2 separate regions of the Homo sapiens genome follow, and region 2 is linked to region 1. A link means that fine-mapping ties the variant in region 1 to the expression of a gene that starts in the linked region. Tissue or cell type: skin. Region 1 holds a variant in brackets; the other region holds the start of a gene. All regions are shown on one strand. Distances are from middle to middle.

The links. PIP is the estimated chance that this variant, and not a neighbour inherited with it, causes the effect.
Region 2: it holds the start of APBB3, and the variant in region 1 is fine-mapped to the expression of APBB3 in skin (TwinsUK, PIP 0.95).

The regions. Positions count from the first base shown.
Region 1 is chr5:141,390,657-141,398,757 of GRCh38, forward strand. The region is part of intron 1 of PCDHGA1 (protocadherin gamma subfamily A, 1); the gene reads left to right. The region is part of intron 1 of PCDHGA2 (protocadherin gamma subfamily A, 2); the gene reads left to right. The region is part of intron 1 of PCDHGA3 (protocadherin gamma subfamily A, 3); the gene reads left to right. The region is part of intron 1 of PCDHGB1 (protocadherin gamma subfamily B, 1); the gene reads left to right. It also overlaps PCDHGA4, PCDHGB2, PCDHGA5, PCDHGB3, PCDHGA6 and PCDHGA7, and 4 more genes. The variant C/T (reference allele first, on the strand shown) is at 3,515.
Region 2 is chr5:140,561,170-140,569,270 of GRCh38, forward strand. APBB3 (amyloid beta precursor protein binding family B member 3) reads right to left here and starts at 3,429. Exons shown (of 13, transcript NM_133173.3): 1 at 3,028-3,429; 2 at 2,583-2,746; 3 at 2,425-2,501; 4 at 1,494-1,554; 5 at 1,184-1,330; 6 at 931-1,058; 7 at 675-680; 8 at 418-532; 9 at 196-280. The coding sequence starts at 3,076. It overlaps SLC35A4 (solute carrier family 35 member A4), which reads left to right and starts at 3,659. Exons shown (of 3, transcript NM_080670.4): 1 at 3,659-3,689; 2 at 4,704-4,802; 3 at 5,396-7,931. The coding sequence starts at 6,001. The coding sequence ends at 6,975. It overlaps LOC131768270 (SLC35A4 upstream open reading frame protein), which reads left to right and starts at 3,659. Exons shown (of 3, transcript NM_001394034.2): 1 at 3,659-3,689; 2 at 4,704-4,802; 3 at 5,396-7,931. The coding sequence starts at 3,675. The coding sequence ends at 5,593. MIR6831 (microRNA 6831) reads right to left here and starts at 2,582; the gene lies at 2,502-2,582. RefSeq lists enhancers at 2,587-2,646, 3,255-3,861, 3,617-3,736 and a silencer at 3,117-3,296.

The sequences.
Region 1 (8,101 bases):
CATAAATATAAAAATAATAAAGCCAAAGAATTTAAGCTAAAATTCAACACTTTTCTTAACTAATTTAACTGGTATGGTCTCCATAGTAGTCCACTGTTTTGTTTCCTGTGTTAACTTCCCTTTTGTTTCAAAAGCTCTTAGAATAAGGAGTCAACTGGATTTTTATGTCCATGGACCCCTTGTGATTATATGCAGTGTACGCTGTGTGTGCGTGTGTGTGTGTGTGTGTGTGAGAGAGATCCTTTTACTTAGAAAAAGGTCTACTATGCTCATTAGAAGATCAAAAGCAGATTCTCCTTACTTGTAACATAGGAGTTTCAGGATTAATCTGTATTCAAGCTCATTCTATATCCTTCATCAAAGAAAAGACAATGTTTTGTGTCTGTTGTCCCTCTCACACACAGCCCTAATATATAATGTGTAACTGCCTTATCTGCAGCCCTAAACTAATATAGCTAGAGGTCTTCTAATCATTCTCCTACCTCTAGGAAAGAAATATAGTCTTGAAAACTGCCAATCTGGTGTGCATACAAAATATATACAAAATACCAAGGAACATTATATGAGCCTTTTGCTAGGTATATCTAAGCAACTGCTTCAGTTAATGGCCACTTTACAAATTGCTGAAAGAAGGAAACGTCTTTCGATTCTTTTTTTTTTCTTTTTTTTTTTTTGAGACAGAGTCTCTGTCTGTTACTCAGGCTGTAGTGCAGTGGCACAATGATAGCTCCCTCCAGCCTCAAACTCCTGGGCTCAAGCATTCCTTCTGCATCAGCCTCCTGACTAGCTGGAACTCAGGCTCATGCCACCAGACCTGGCTAATTTTTCTGTTTTCAGTAGAGAAAATATTTTCTTTCACTAATTTAACTGGTATGGTTTCCATTGTCTACCCAGTTTTCCATATGCATAAGAAAATATATTCACAGGAAAATATAAAGTTTTCAGATTTCATGAGTGGTTTTAAGAAAGTTTTAGTCAGTGAAAAAACTATCATACCAGTCTTCAAAGGAAGGGTGAAATAAGTTCATCTGCTACGTTGCCCAGGCTGGTCTTGAAGGGAAACAGACTTTTTTGTAGTCATACTTATCCTTTGGCTTCTTAGTAAGTATTATATAGTCATTACTTTTTGCAGTTTTTTAGATCAAAGTGTTAATGTAGGTAAAGTTAATTTTAGAATATATGTAAAAGTCAAGTCTGCTTTAAATTTAATCATCTCTTTGGTGAAAGGGATGGGATGGAGCTTTGCTTTTTATCATATATTCATCTGTACCTTTCAAGTATTCAAATAGAAAAATATAAACAATGTAAATAAAATAGCAAAACAATGTAATATCTCATAAAACTGCAATGGTAAAAGCATTTATCCTATTGAAATTCCACAATTTTTATTTGAAAATATTATCGACATGTAATTCAAGTGGCATTTAGAAGAATAATTTAAAAGCAACAACTCTATAGAAAGCTTGTAAAATGATTAAGTAGTTTAAACCAAATAAAACAATTTCTGAGTCAGTCATCTCCAGTAGGTCTATTTTAGTCTCAAGATAAATTCATTTCTGGTGACAACTGAAGTTCTTAGTTATTTGTTAGTATATATTGGAGACATTTACAATAAAGCTTAGAGCACAATGGGAAATGAAAGTATCATGTTTTTTTTAAGACCAAATGTATTGCAGAAATGTGAGTAATTTAATCCGATGCTACAATCTGATCATTCTGATCTAATCTGATCATTTAATAACACTAAATAAAACCTTCATCTCACATTCTTTGGCTGTTTCTTTTAAAATATGGGTTTACGGATAAATCAAATAAATTCAAAACAAAGTAATAAGCAAATGATTTTTTTTTCTCAGTAATCTAGTAGAGTATTACATTTAGAAGTAATCTGTATCTCAGTGCAGTAACTATTTAGGACTGTAAGCGCCGCTGTTCACCTACTGGAAGACAAATGCAACCGAAAACACTCAGATCTCACACCTCACGAAGACCCGCAGATGCCACAAACTAACTGCTGGACTGCAGCGAAACCCGACCCCTGTTTGGAGGCACTCCAGGTTTCCGGAGGATTGTCATCTCCATAGCTGCGGCAAGAAACTAAATAAGACCCATTTATGCACAGTGAAGATTCTGAGAGGATTCTGCAGCAAAACAACAATGGCCGCTCCACAGAGTCGCCCCAGACGCGGCGAGCTGATCCTGCTGTGCGCGCTGCTGGGAACGCTGTGGGAAATCGGGAGGGGACAGATTCGCTACTCTGTGCCAGAAGAGACGGACAAAGGCTCCTTCGTGGGTAATATCTCCAAGGACCTGGGGCTGGACCCCCGGAAGCTGGCGAAGCACGGAGTCCGTATCGTCTCCAGAGGTAGGACGCAGCTCTTTGCTCTGAACCCGCGCAGCGGCAGCTTGATCACCGCGGGCAGGATAGATCGGGAGGAGCTCTGCGCTCAGAGCCCGCGGTGTCTGATAAATATTAACACCCTGGTTGAGGATAAAGGAAAACTCTTTGGGGTAGAAATAGAAATAATTGATATTAACGATAATAACCCAAAATTCCAGGTCGAAGATCTAGAAGTAAAAATTAACGAAATCGCGGTTCCTGGAGCACGTTATCCACTCCCAGAAGCTGTTGACCCGGATGTGGGCGTGAACTCCCTCCAGAGCTACCAGCTCAGCCCCAATCACCACTTCTCCCTGGACGTGCAGACTGGAGACAATGGAGCCATAAACCCAGAGCTGGTGCTGGAGCGCGCCCTGGACAGGGAGGAAGAGGCTGCTCACCACCTGGTCCTCACGGCCTCGGATGGCGGCAAGCCGCCTCGCTCTAGCACAGTGCGCATCCACGTGACAGTGTTGGATACAAATGACAATGCCCCGGTTTTTCCTCACCCGATTTACCGAGTGAAAGTCCTTGAGAACATGCCCCCAGGCACGCGGCTGCTTACTGTAACAGCCAGCGACCCGGATGAGGGAATCAACGGAAAAGTGGCATACAAATTCCGGAAAATTAATGAAAAACAAACTCCGTTATTCCAGCTTAATGAAAATACTGGGGAAATATCAATAGCAAAAAGTCTAGATTATGAAGAATGTTCATTTTATGAAATGGAAATACAAGCCGAAGATGTGGGGGCACTTCTGGGGAGGACCAAATTGCTCATTTCGGTGGAAGATGTAAATGACAATAGACCAGAAGTGATCATTACGTCTTTGTTTAGCCCAGTGTTAGAAAATTCTCTTCCCGGGACAGTAATTGCCTTCTTGAGTGTGCATGACCAAGACTCTGGAAAGAATGGTCAAGTTGTCTGTTACACACGTGATAATTTACCTTTTAAATTAGAAAAGTCAATAGGTAATTATTATAGATTAGTGACAAGGAAATATTTGGACCGAGAAAATGTCTCTATCTACAATATCACAGTGATGGCCTCAGATCTAGGAACACCACCTCTGTCCACTGAAACTCAAATCGCTCTGCACGTGGCAGACATTAACGACAACCCTCCTACTTTCC[C/T]TCATGCCTCCTACTCAGCGTATATCCTAGAGAACAACCTGAGAGGAGCCTCCATCTTTTCCTTGACTGCACACGACCCCGACAGCCAGGAGAATGCCCAGGTCACTTACTCTGTGACCGAGGACACGCTGCAGGGGGCGCCCCTGTCCTCGTATATCTCCATCAACTCTGACACCGGTGTCCTGTATGCGCTGCAATCTTTCGACTATGAGCAGATCCGAGACCTGCAGCTACTGGTAACAGCCAGCGACAGCGGGGACCCGCCCCTCAGCAGCAACATGTCACTGAGCCTGTTCGTGCTGGACCAGAATGACAACGCGCCCGAGATCCTGTACCCCGCCCTCCCCACAGACGGTTCCACTGGCGTGGAGCTGGCGCCCCGCTCCGCAGAGCGTGGCTACCTGGTGACCAAGGTGGTGGCGGTGGACAGAGACTCGGGCCAGAACGCCTGGCTGTCCTACCGCCTGCTCAAGGCCAGCGAGCCGGGACTCTTCTCGGTGGGTCTGCACACGGGCGAGGTGCGCACGGCGCGAGCCCTGCTGGACAGAGATGCGCTCAAGCAGAGCCTCGTGGTGGCCGTCCAGGACCATGGCCAGCCCCCTCTCTCCGCCACTGTCACGCTCACCGTAGCCGTGGCTGACAGCATCCCCGAAGTCCTGACCGAGTTGGGCAGTCTGAAGCCTTCGGTCGACCCGAACGATTCGAGCCTTACACTCTATCTCGTGGTGGCAGTGGCTGCCATCTCCTGTGTCTTCCTCGCCTTTGTCGCTGTGCTTCTGGGGCTCAGGCTGAGGCGCTGGCACAAGTCACGCCTGCTCCAGGATTCCGGTGGCAGATTGGTAGGCGTGCCTGCCTCACATTTTGTGGGTGTTGAGGAGGTACAGGCTTTCCTGCAGACCTATTCCCAGGAAGTCTCCCTCACCGCCGACTCGCGGAAGAGTCACCTGATCTTTCCCCAGCCCAACTACGCAGACATGCTCATCAGTCAGGAGGGCTGTGAGAAAAATGATTCTTTGTTAACATCCGTAGATTTTCATGAATATAAGAATGAAGCTGATCATGGTCAGGTGAGTTTAGTTCTTTGCTTGCTTTTAATTTCCAGATGAATTTTATTTGGCATAAATTATGTTTTGAAAAACATTGTGAAGATAGTTGAAAATAATTTTTAAGGTGTATCACAGAGTTTTGGGTTTATTTTGGTGGTGTTACTATAAAATTGAACTCTAATAGTCATAGGTTATTGTTTCATTTGCTTTTAAACGACTTGGAAAAGATTGTTCAACCATTTTAAGCCTTCCAGTATTTTATTCCTATTATCACTCATTCACTTAAGAAGTAGCTACCCGTCCATACTGGTAATTTTGCTATTGTTTGTGTGTGTGTGTGTGTGTGTGTGTGTGTGTGTGTGTGTGTGTGTGTGTATCCCAAACTAGAACTTCAGAAAATTATCAAGAAGTCTAAAGCCTTGTTATTAGCTTAGCAAAAGTAAAATATATCTCAGAATTTTTAGGGTTATGTTTAGCATTTGAACCTGTAACTAGGCTCTTGTAGATTTCTTCACTTTAAACCTCTTTTCTGAGCCCTGTTTCTGTACCAGTGCCCTTCAAAACTTTAATACTTCTTACCATCCTTCAAAACATGAACAAACTTTAAAGATGGATCTTGGTGGGAGATGAGACTGGTTACTAAATATTAAGTATGTGAGTCAGTGGTCACCTGGGCTCCATGCCCATGGAGACATGAAATCTAAAGCCTAGAATGTCCATTGCTCCCCCAAACAAAAAACAAAAGCAAAAACATTAGATCTGAATTAAAATGTAATTTTAAACTGTTGAAAGTGACTTTTGTAAAATATGTAAGAACATATTTCAATACAATTCCAATTAGCTGTTTCGGTTGTGCATTGATGTGAAGTGGTGAGAATGTTGATATTAAGAACCAATGTTTCAGGTACACAAGTTCTAAATAAGCTGATCAATTCAATTAAAGTTATTCAGTCTTGGCTGGACACAGTGCCTCATGTCTGAAATCCCAGCACTTTGGGAGGCTGGGGCAGGAGGACCGCTTGAGCCCCGGGGGTTTGAAACTGCAGTGAGCTATGATCATGCCACTGCACTCCAGCCTAGGTGGCAGAACTAGACCCTGTCTCTAAAAAAACTATTATTAGGCCGGGTGCGGTGGCTCACGCCTGTAATCCCAGCACTTTGGGAGACTGAGGTGGGTGGATCACCTGAGGTCAGGAGTTCAAGATCAGCCTGGCAAACATGGTGAAACCCCGTCTCTACTAAAAACTACAAAAATTAGCCAGGCATGGTGGCATGCGCCTGTGGTCCCAGCTACTCGGGAGGCTGAGGCAGAAGAATCACTTGAACCCGGGAGGTGGAGGTTGCAGTGAGCCTCGATCCTGTCACTGCACTCCAGCCTGGGCAACAGGGTGAGACTCCGTCTCAAAAAAAAAAAAAACTAATATTAATAGTAAAAACTCGGTATAGGCTATCCATTATTGTATTCCTGCATACCTTCTTGTAGCATTTGAATAAAGCTAATACCTGAATTGATTGTTGTAAGGTAGAAGTAGATGACCCAATAAATGTTTGTTATTAATGAAAAGGACATTTCCTAAGGATTGTGTAGTGTTCTACTGTATGGTGCATATTCAGTGGAGTGGGAGTTAACTTCATAGTTTGTGTACCATTTGGATGCACATTTGAGAGGACAACATATTATTGGCACTTTGCAATTTTAAAAACTCGGATGAAAGTTGCCCTGGTAGGAAAGAAAATCCTTACTCTCCCTAAAAATGTTGGCTAGTTGTTTTTATTAATCTGACAAATGGACTAAAGAAGGTTGACCAATGTCCACAAATTTATGTAAATGAACTTATGAGCTTCATTTATCCAATTCCAAAGTCATTTCAGATAGGATAATAATGCAATCCACTAGAATATCCCTTTGTACCTTGTATTGCAGAATAGATAAGCATTTCCCCAATAACTCTTAAGAATGAATTTATGTACTGTAAAAGATATGACATAAGAGAAGTATTTTGAGATATGAAGAAGAGCAACGTAGTAGGGTATATCATTTCTTAGCTACATCATATGGGCAGTATACTTGAATGAATATTTCCTGAAGTAGAAGAGTAAAGAAAAATTATTTTTATAAAGAATGTTAATATAGTCAGGAAGAGGAGATGTTTGGGGATTGGTATAAAATTGCCACAACTTTACAAAATAGTTTTAAATAGTATAGATTTCCCTAATATGTGTAATATAAAACACTAGAAATATTGGGGAGTTGGAAATCATAGAAATGAACAGAAGAATGATAAAATTGTTTCCATAGCTAATAAAAAATGAATTTTTGAAATCAGTATAGTATGAAGGCTCTGAGAGCAAGAACTGTATCATATTAATTATTATATTGCCAGTGACAAGGGCAATACTTAGTTCTAGCTAAGAGTTCAAGGTATGTTTGCAGAATGGTGAAAGAATGGACCAATGTATGCAGGTTTGTATAAAAACCCAACGTGATATTTCTAACAATTTGGAAAACAGAGAAAGATACCTTAAAGAAGTTGTTATAATTTTTTATTAAGTATATGGACGTAAAAACTTGGCTTGTTAAGTTAGGCACACAAAAACAATTACTGCACTGGTTAACTTGAAGCCGCAGAGGCTGTAGTTTCCTAGTGCTGACTCTGGGCGCCGCTGTTGGCCAAAGTGCAGAGCTTGGCGCTCCAGATCTCCTCGCGCAGCCGCAGCGCGCTTTCCAGGGCAGCCCCAGCTCAGACTCCCCAGCGCCGGCCTTTACACCGCTTCCTCCTCGGAAAAAGAATCGTTTCCTAAACTGGAACTGGAACTAAAGCCCGTTCGGAGATCCAAAAATCTACAATACAGAGGTTATTTGTAACCTGGCGTCTCCAGGCTGGTGAGCAAGCTGAGGAGAGCAAGAGGGATGGGGAGCGGCGCCGGGGAGCTGGGCCGGGCTGAGAGGCTGCCAGTGCTCTTTCTCTTCCTGCTGTCTTTGTTCTGCCCGGCGCTCTGTGAGCAGATCCGCTACAGGATTCCCGAGGAAATGCCCAAGGGCTCCGTAGTGGGGAACCTCGCCACGGACCTGGGGTTCAGCGTCCAGGAGTTACCGACTCGAAAACTGCGCGTCAGTTCGGAGAAGCCTTACTTCACCGTGAGCGCAGAGAGCGGGGAGTTGCTTGTGAGCAGCAGGCTAGACAGGGAGGAGATATGCGGGAAGAAGCCAGCTTGTGCTCTGGAATTTGAGGCTGTTGCTGAAAATCCACTGAACTTTTATCACGTGAATGTGGAGATCGAGGACATTAATGACCACACGCCAAAATTCACGCAAAATTCCTTTGAGCTGCAAATAAGTGAGTCTGCACAGCCTGGCACAAGATTTATACTAGAAGTAGCAGAAGATGCAGATATTGGCTTAAACTCTCTGCAGAAGTATAAACTCTCTCTTAACCCAAGTTTCTCATTAATAATTAAGGAGAAACAGGATGGTAGTAAATACCCGGAACTGGCACTGGAGAAAACCTTAGACCGGGAACAACAGAGTTACCATCGTTTA
Region 2 (8,101 bases), 830 kb before region 1:
GCCAGGACTCAGGTCAGAGCTGGTGCTGGTAGAAGAAATGGCTCATAGATGCTCCTCCAACTAGTGGCTTGGGATCCCTGAGACCAGACATCTCAGAAATTTATCCACAGAAGTATTAAATAACCAGAAATCGCCCCCCCACAAAGCAGCACCAAAGCACCCCAATGCAGCAATGCAGGTCTCCCCTCCCCATACCTTGCCGTGGCAGGTCTTCAGGAGAGATGGGGTCTGGGGAGCAGCAAGAGGCATCACCACTGACCTCTACTCGCTCTGACAAGATCTAAAACACAATGAAGCCAGCATGACCCACAGGGAGAGAGGGGAATTAGGGTAAAAGGGCCAATACCACCCCAACTACCTTGGAAGCTTCAGACCCAACCCCTTACCCACATTCCCTGCCCCACCCCTGACACTTACCTGGGCACAAAGCCCATGTAGGGCACTGGCAATGGCCTTGGCAGGGACATCACAGCAAAACACATGGCACTTGAGCATACAGCTATCTTTGTCACTTGCCACAAAAGCGAAGTCCCTAGCAGGGGCAGAGATGGGGCTGGGGTAGAAGCTGGTTAGAGGCAGGAGCCTGCAGGAGGCTGGAAAGTCAGGCTAGGGATATAGCAGGGATGGAGTAGGGACATCAGGGATGGGGCTCAGGATACCTGGTTTTCACTCACCTGTCACTGTTCCGGAAGCATGTGGGAGCACAGAAGGGAATCAGCCCAGCCTCTCGGACTCTCCCCAAACTGTCCCTGCTGAGCTGGGCCCACCCTCCCCAACCAGGGCTGGACCAGGCAGGGGAAGCAGTCCTGGGTCCACATCAGAGGATCTGTGTCCAGGGGTTCAAGTACTGGGGATCAGCATCAGTGGGGATCACAGCCTGCAGCCGGGAGGGAGAAGTAGCTCTTGCTTGGGGGATGTAGGCATCCTCACCGGCCCTTGGAGCTCCCCACGCCCCACACACGGATGTGCACCAGAGGCTGGCAGTGGATCAGACTGTGGTCCAGGGGATTCACTAGGCTCATGGCATCCTTCTTCAGGATCATCAGCATGTTCTGGCCCTGCCAAGGACAGAGGTCAGCCCAGAGCTCAGATAAAGGTCATTGCCATGAGAAATAGGAAATTCAGGGACAGCTACCTCTGCTGGGCCCTGGGCCCAAACCATTAAAGGGCCCAGCCAACTCACCTCACCCCAGGCACCATCTGGAGGCTGGCTCCGGCTGCGGGTCTGGGCCAGCTGCTGGATACAGTTATTGACTGCAATACTGCTCTTCCCCGGTGCCAGGTCCTCTTCAGGTACCTCTACCCAGCCCAGAGAGCGGACTGCAAAGCACTGACAGGTTGGGGGAAGGGACAGGAATTAATAAGGATGGAGTAGGGTGGCAGGTGCCACAATACATACTCCCTGTCTTCACCCTTGATCACCTCTGTTCAGTCCAATCCCACCCTTGTCTTTCCCTTGGGACCTCCCAATGCCCTCAGGCCCAAGTCACTACCTTAGCCCCTGGCTCCATGCTCTGGATGTAGGATTCCCCACCATACCAGGACAGAGAGTTACTGAAACAGAGCAGAGCTGTTAAGAGGACCACATTTCCTACAGTAGGGACACTGGTGAGGCCTAGACAACTTGATAAGCACAGGATGAGGGGCAAGACCCAGAATATAGCACCAGAAATATAAAACCAGAGCAGGGTAGAGCCCAGGACATATTAACGTAACATAAAGTGTGACTCAGAATTTGAGGGAAAATTCAGGACATAGGACCCAGACACAGGACATAGAATAAAAGTCACAAGGCTAGGTGCAGTGGTGGCTCACGCCTGTAATCCCAACACTTTGGGAGGCTGAGACGGGTGGATCATGAGGTCAGGATATCGAGACCATCCTGGCCAACATGGTGAAACCCCATATCTACTAAAAATACAAACATTAGCTGGGCATGGTGGCATGTGCCTGTAGTTTCAGCTACTCAGGAGGCTGAGGCAGGAGAATGACTTGAACCTGGGAGGCGGAGGTTGCAGTGAGCCAAGATCGTGCCACTGCACTCCAGCCTGGATGACAGAGTGAGACTCCATCTCAAAAAATAAAAAATAAAAGTCACAAAATAGAACAGGGTCCAATATGTGGACCAGAACCCCAAAGTGGGACAAGAGACCCTAGAACAGAGGACTTAATGGCCAAGGTCTAGAACATGATAGGTTAGGACCAAGAATATGAAAAACATGTAGCTACAAACAAGAGCTTAGAACAAGGGATAAAACTCAAAATACTGACAGTTAAGAACCTGGGACAGAGCCAAGAACGTAACAGAACCCAAAACATGTGACAGAATCCAGAACCTGGGCTGGAAAGCAGACCATGGGTCCAGCTGCATTTTTGAACACCATGGAACCCCAAGCCTTTCATTTTGCCTGGGCCACCCGTTACCTCCGGTCCAGTGAACTCTCCAGGCTGGAGAAGGATCTCCCTTTGGGGGGCCGCAGTCCCCAGATCCCCTCCGTTCCCTGTAGAGTGGGAGTTAGTCAGTTTAACAGCAGACCTAGGTCCACACATGGGCTCAGACCTCCTCCTCACACTCTACCTACCGTGCCTGGGTCCTCTGCATCTCCTAGTTCCCAGGTTGGGCGCTGCCACTGGGTGCTACCGCTGGGTACATGCCAGTAGTAAGTACCTGCAGCATCGTGGATCTTCCTCCAGCCAGGAGGCAGGCCAGCCTCCACCTCCAGACTGTGGTCCCCCCACAAGTCATCTACAGGAACACCGGATTAGAGAGGAGGGAGCATATGATTTGTGAGTTCAGAATAACATGCTGTCATAATCCCCTCTCCATCCCCAAAATGGGTCAGTTCTTAGGCTGAAGATCCAGGCTCCTCAATCTTGAAGACATCACATGTAAAGACCGGGTTCATTCGCCCCCTGGTCCCTACACAGAGAGGTATCCCCCACCGTCTTTGAGCCCCAGAGTAGCCTTTCGGATTCCCTCGTCCTCCCTCAGCTCCTGGTCTTCCCACCGGGCCCCTCCGTGCACACCATCGCAGTTGACCAGAATGATGGCCAGCATGTAATCCTTGCCCAGCATAACCCCGGCTGCTCCCCGCCAGCCTCTGCCGGCCCGCACTCTCAGCCCAGCGCGACCTCTGGAGCTACTGCGCCTGCAAGCCCAGCCTCTCTGCGCCGCAGGCTGCGGGGCCAGCTGGCGCCGCACAAATACGGGGCGGGACACGGGGCGGGACACGGGCCGGTCCCGGGGGAGGGCCTGAGCCGCACAGCCCGCCCAGGGGTGGTGCGTGTAAACGGGCGTCTGGATCCCCGAATGGTTGCGTGTTTCCGTGTGTGGGTCCGGGGGAGGCCCACGAACGCCAGCGAAACCGCTGACACCACCGCCCAACTATGAACTCATCAGGCGCCTGAAGACCGACACGCCGAACATGCGCCGCGCGCACTCGCGCACGAGTGAGATCATCGCGCCCCGGTCGTGAGTGCGCTCACACGCAGCCTGAGACTCGACGGGAGGGGGTCACGTGGAAGTATCTGAGAGAGGCGTACTTGGCCACTAGGAAAGCACCTCCCCCTTTCCAAAAATGCTCCGGAAGTGCCTTCGCCCTCCGTAAAGATGGCCGGGGCAGTCGGCACGAGGGAGGCGGGGATGCGCCTGCGCAACAAGTTCGGCGGGGAAGATGGCGGATGACAAGGTGAGTGGCCGTGGGGGTGATCTGCAGCCGGGCGTGGTCTTCACTCTCCTTGACCTTTTTAGTTCCGGGGAGAAGCGACTCTGGAGCGGCTCAGGAGTGAGGATGTCCCTTGTTTCTTCTGCGGCTCCTGTCAACTGCCTCAACAGTGTGGAGTGGTGTGGGGAGAGCATTCGGCGAGGCGGGAGGAGCCGTGGATCCCCCAGATGTCCCCTCCTGGGAACCATCACGAACCCGTTACTAGCACAGACTCAAAAACATTCACCCTTAAACACTCCTCACTTTACCCCATTCCCTAGCTCCCGAAATTTTCTTCCCAGTGACACGATGTTTCCAATCACACGGACACTCACACCACCCTCATTCAAACACTCCTTTGCATACATTCTGAATTTCATACTTATATGCGATCAAAATCACTCAGTCCATTTACTTACACACTTGCCGACAGTCTTTTTTGTCATTCTCAGTCACATCCAGTCACTCACATTCAGTTTGGGATGTCCTTGGGAAGAAAGAGGTAAAGCCCATCCAGGAACCAAGACAATAAAATTGTCCAGGAAACTGCCTCGGTCCATTACTCACCATTGGTCTAGAAGCTCAGCATTACCCACACATTTACTAAATGTCAGGCACTAGAACATAGTAGCCAAGACAGACTGGTCACGACTTTCAAGGAGCTCATAATGGAGTCAGTAGTGGTTTCCTGATGGACCTAATTAAAGGTCCCTAGCTGTCCCTCCTGCCTTTCCTACATACTGCTTGCTATATAAAATTCTTGTCAAGGTTGATGTAAGTTACTGGTTCAGATCCCATCTGTCAGTCCCTTCCTGGCCCTCATTTGAATTCTGTGCTTTTCAATGCTTGTCTTTCTTTGCCACTGCCATCTCAGGAAGCTTTTATAGGAAAAGGTCTTTCTGGCTCACCCCATCCCCTCCCAATTCCCAGCTTCTGATGGAATTGAGCAAGGGGTGGGGCTTAGTCAGACTGCTGGAGCCAGCCTCTCGCTTGTCCTAGGATTCTCTGCCTAAGCTTAAGGACCTGGCATTTCTCAAGAACCAGCTGGAAAGCCTGCAGCGGCGTGTAGAAGACGAAGTCAACAGTGGAGTGGGCCAGGTAAGGACTGTCCCACCCCACCCCTGCCTTAGGCTTTATTGCCCAACATGCTCTTGAGAGTGTTAAATGGATGGTAGAGATTTCTTCAGCAAGTGATTATTGAGGGCCTATTCTCAGTCACCCTAAGGACAATTTTTCTGAATGGCACATGAACTAATATCTTAAGTAGTGGTTAAGTAGGTGAAGAGGGGAGGAAAGAACATTCCAGGCAGAACAGCATATGTAAAGGCCTTGTGGTAGGAAGTAGCATTATAAACATGAGGGGTGAAAGGAGGTCCATTTGGCTACAGTAGTTGGGGAGCATGCTAGGAAATGAGGCTGGAGAAACCGGCAGGGCTAGGGGCATCTCTGACCTTGTGTGGCGGTGGAGTTCTATGGTTGGAGCTTTCTGACCCCAGGGTTCTGAGATTGTGTGATCAGAACTGCTTGGTTCTTTTTCTGGCCCCAGAACCTTGGGAAAAATCTGGAGAAAATACCACGGTTGTCCAGGGTGAGGAGGAGCTGGTGGTGGAATGCTCTAATCCCAGCTTGAGTAGCCCCTGGACAGTCAGGAAGGAGCCTAGCTAAGTTTCCTTCTGCATTTTTCTCTGCAGGATGGCTCGCTGTTGTCCTCCCCGTTCCTCAAGGGATTCCTGGCTGGCTATGTGGTGGCCAAACTGAGGGCATCAGCAGTATTGGGCTTTGCTGTGGGCACCTGCACTGGCATCTATGCGGCTCAGGCATATGCTGTGCCCAACGTGGAGAAGACATTAAGGGACTATTTGCAGTTGCTACGCAAGGGGCCCGACTAGCTCTAGGTGCCATGGAAGAGGCAGGATGAGCAGCTCAGCCTTCAGGTGGAGACACTTTATCTGGATTCCCCAGCTGTCATCCATTTGCTATCTCCAACTTTCCTGCCACCTTCATCCTTGCCTCCCTTCCTGCAGATTGTGGACAGTAGTTCCTCAGCCTGCACCCTGGATTCCTTCTTCCCCTTCCTAGCTCCATGGGACTCGCCCCAAGACTGTGGCTTCAAGGACCACCAGCCCCTTACTCTTCAAGCCCTGACTGTGGAGTTGGTAGATGCCTCTGATCCTCAGTATTCTCTCTGGCAATGTTCCACGGCTTCTCCTTCCTGGGAGCTGGCTCCATAACTTGATTTTCCCCAAACGTGTTGCAATCCCTGCTGCCCCTTAGCCACCCAGGGTCTTGTGTGGGTATGAGTGTAGAGGATGGGGGTATGCCAGGCCTGGGCCGTCCCAGGCAGGCCCGCTGGACCCTGATGCTACTCCTATCCACTGCCATGTACGGTGCCCATGCCCCATTGCTGGCACTGTGCCATGTGGACGGCCGAGTGCCCTTCCGGCCCTCCTCAGCCGTGCTGCTGACTGAGCTGACCAAGCTACTGTTATGCGCCTTCTCCCTTCTGGTAGGCTGGCAAGCATGGCCCCAGGGGCCCCCACCCTGGCGCCAGGCTGCTCCCTTCGCACTATCAGCCCTGCTCTATGGCGCTAACAACAACCTGGTGATCTATCTTCAGCGTTACATGGACCCCAGCACCTACCAGGTGCTGAGTAATCTCAAGATTGGAAGCACAGCTGTGCTCTACTGCCTCTGCCTCCGGCACCGCCTCTCTGTGCGTCAGGGGTTAGCGCTGCTGCTGCTGATGGCTGCGGGAGCCTGCTATGCAGCAGGGGGCCTTCAAGTTCCCGGGAACACCCTTCCCAGTCCCCCTCCAGCAGCTGCTGCCAGCCCCATGCCCCTGCATATCACTCCGCTAGGCCTGCTGCTCCTCATTCTGTACTGCCTCATCTCAGGCTTGTCGTCAGTGTACACAGAGCTGCTCATGAAGCGACAGCGGCTGCCCCTGGCACTTCAGAACCTCTTCCTCTACACTTTTGGTGTGCTTCTGAATCTAGGTCTGCATGCTGGCGGCGGCTCTGGCCCAGGCCTCCTGGAAGGTTTCTCAGGATGGGCAGCACTCGTGGTGCTGAGCCAGGCACTAAATGGACTGCTCATGTCTGCTGTCATGAAGCATGGCAGCAGCATCACACGCCTCTTTGTGGTGTCCTGCTCGCTGGTGGTCAACGCCGTGCTCTCAGCAGTCCTGCTACGGCTGCAGCTCACAGCCGCCTTCTTCCTGGCCACATTGCTCATTGGCCTGGCCATGCGCCTGTACTATGGCAGCCGCTAGTCCCTGACAACTTCCACCCTGATTCCGGACCCTGTAGATTGGGCGCCACCACCAGATCCCCCTCCCAGGCCTTCCTCCCTCTCCCATCAGCAGCCCTGTAACAAGTGCCTTGTGAGAAAAGCTGGAGAAGTGAGGGCAGCCAGGTTATTCTCTGGAGGTTGGTGGATGAAGGGGTACCCCTAGGAGATGTGAAGTGTGGGTTTGGTTAAGGAAATGCTTACCATCCCCCACCCCCAACCAAGTTCTTCCAGACTAAAGAATTAAGGTAACATCAATACCTAGGCCTGAGAAATAACCCCATCCTTGTTGGGCAGCTCCCTGCTTTGTCCTGCATGAACAGAGTTGATGAAAGTGGGGTGTGGGCAACAAGTGGCTTTCCTTGCCTACTTTAGTCACCCAGCAGAGCCACTGGAGCTGGCTAGTCCAGCCCAGCCATGGTGCATGACTCTTCCATAAGGGATCCTCACCCTTCCACTTTCATGCAAGAAGGCCCAGTTGCCACAGATTATACAACCATTACCCAAACCACTCTGACAGTCTCCTCCAGTTCCAGCAATGCCTAGAGACATGCTCCCTGCCCTCTCCACAGTGCTGCTCCCCACACCTAGCCTTTGTTCTGGAAACCCCAGAGAGGGCTGGGCTTGACTCATCTCAGGGAATGTAGCCCCTGGGCCCTGGCTTAAGCCGACACTCCTGACCTCTCTGTTCACCCTGAGGGCTGTCTTGAAGCCCGCTACCCACTCTGAGGCTCCTAGGAGGTACCATGCTTCCCACTCTGGGGCCTGCCCCTGCCTAGCAGTCTCCCAGCTCCCAACAGCCTGGGGAAGCTCTGCACAGAGTGACCTGAGACCAGGTACAGGAAACCTGTAGCTCAATCAGTGTCTCTTTAACTGCATAAGCAATAAGATCTTAATAAAGTCTTCTAGGCTGTAGGGTGGTTCCTACAACCACAGCCATGATTGTCTTGTGTCTTCTGTCTGCGCAACTCCCCTCAAACAATTTTGTTCCTCTGGGGTCCTGAGTATCTTAATTCTGGGATAACTTTTAGACTAAGAAAAAATTGTTTTCTCCAAGCTGTTGCCAGTGGCATTATTTCCTGTGAGAGTTCCATGGAACTGAGACATTT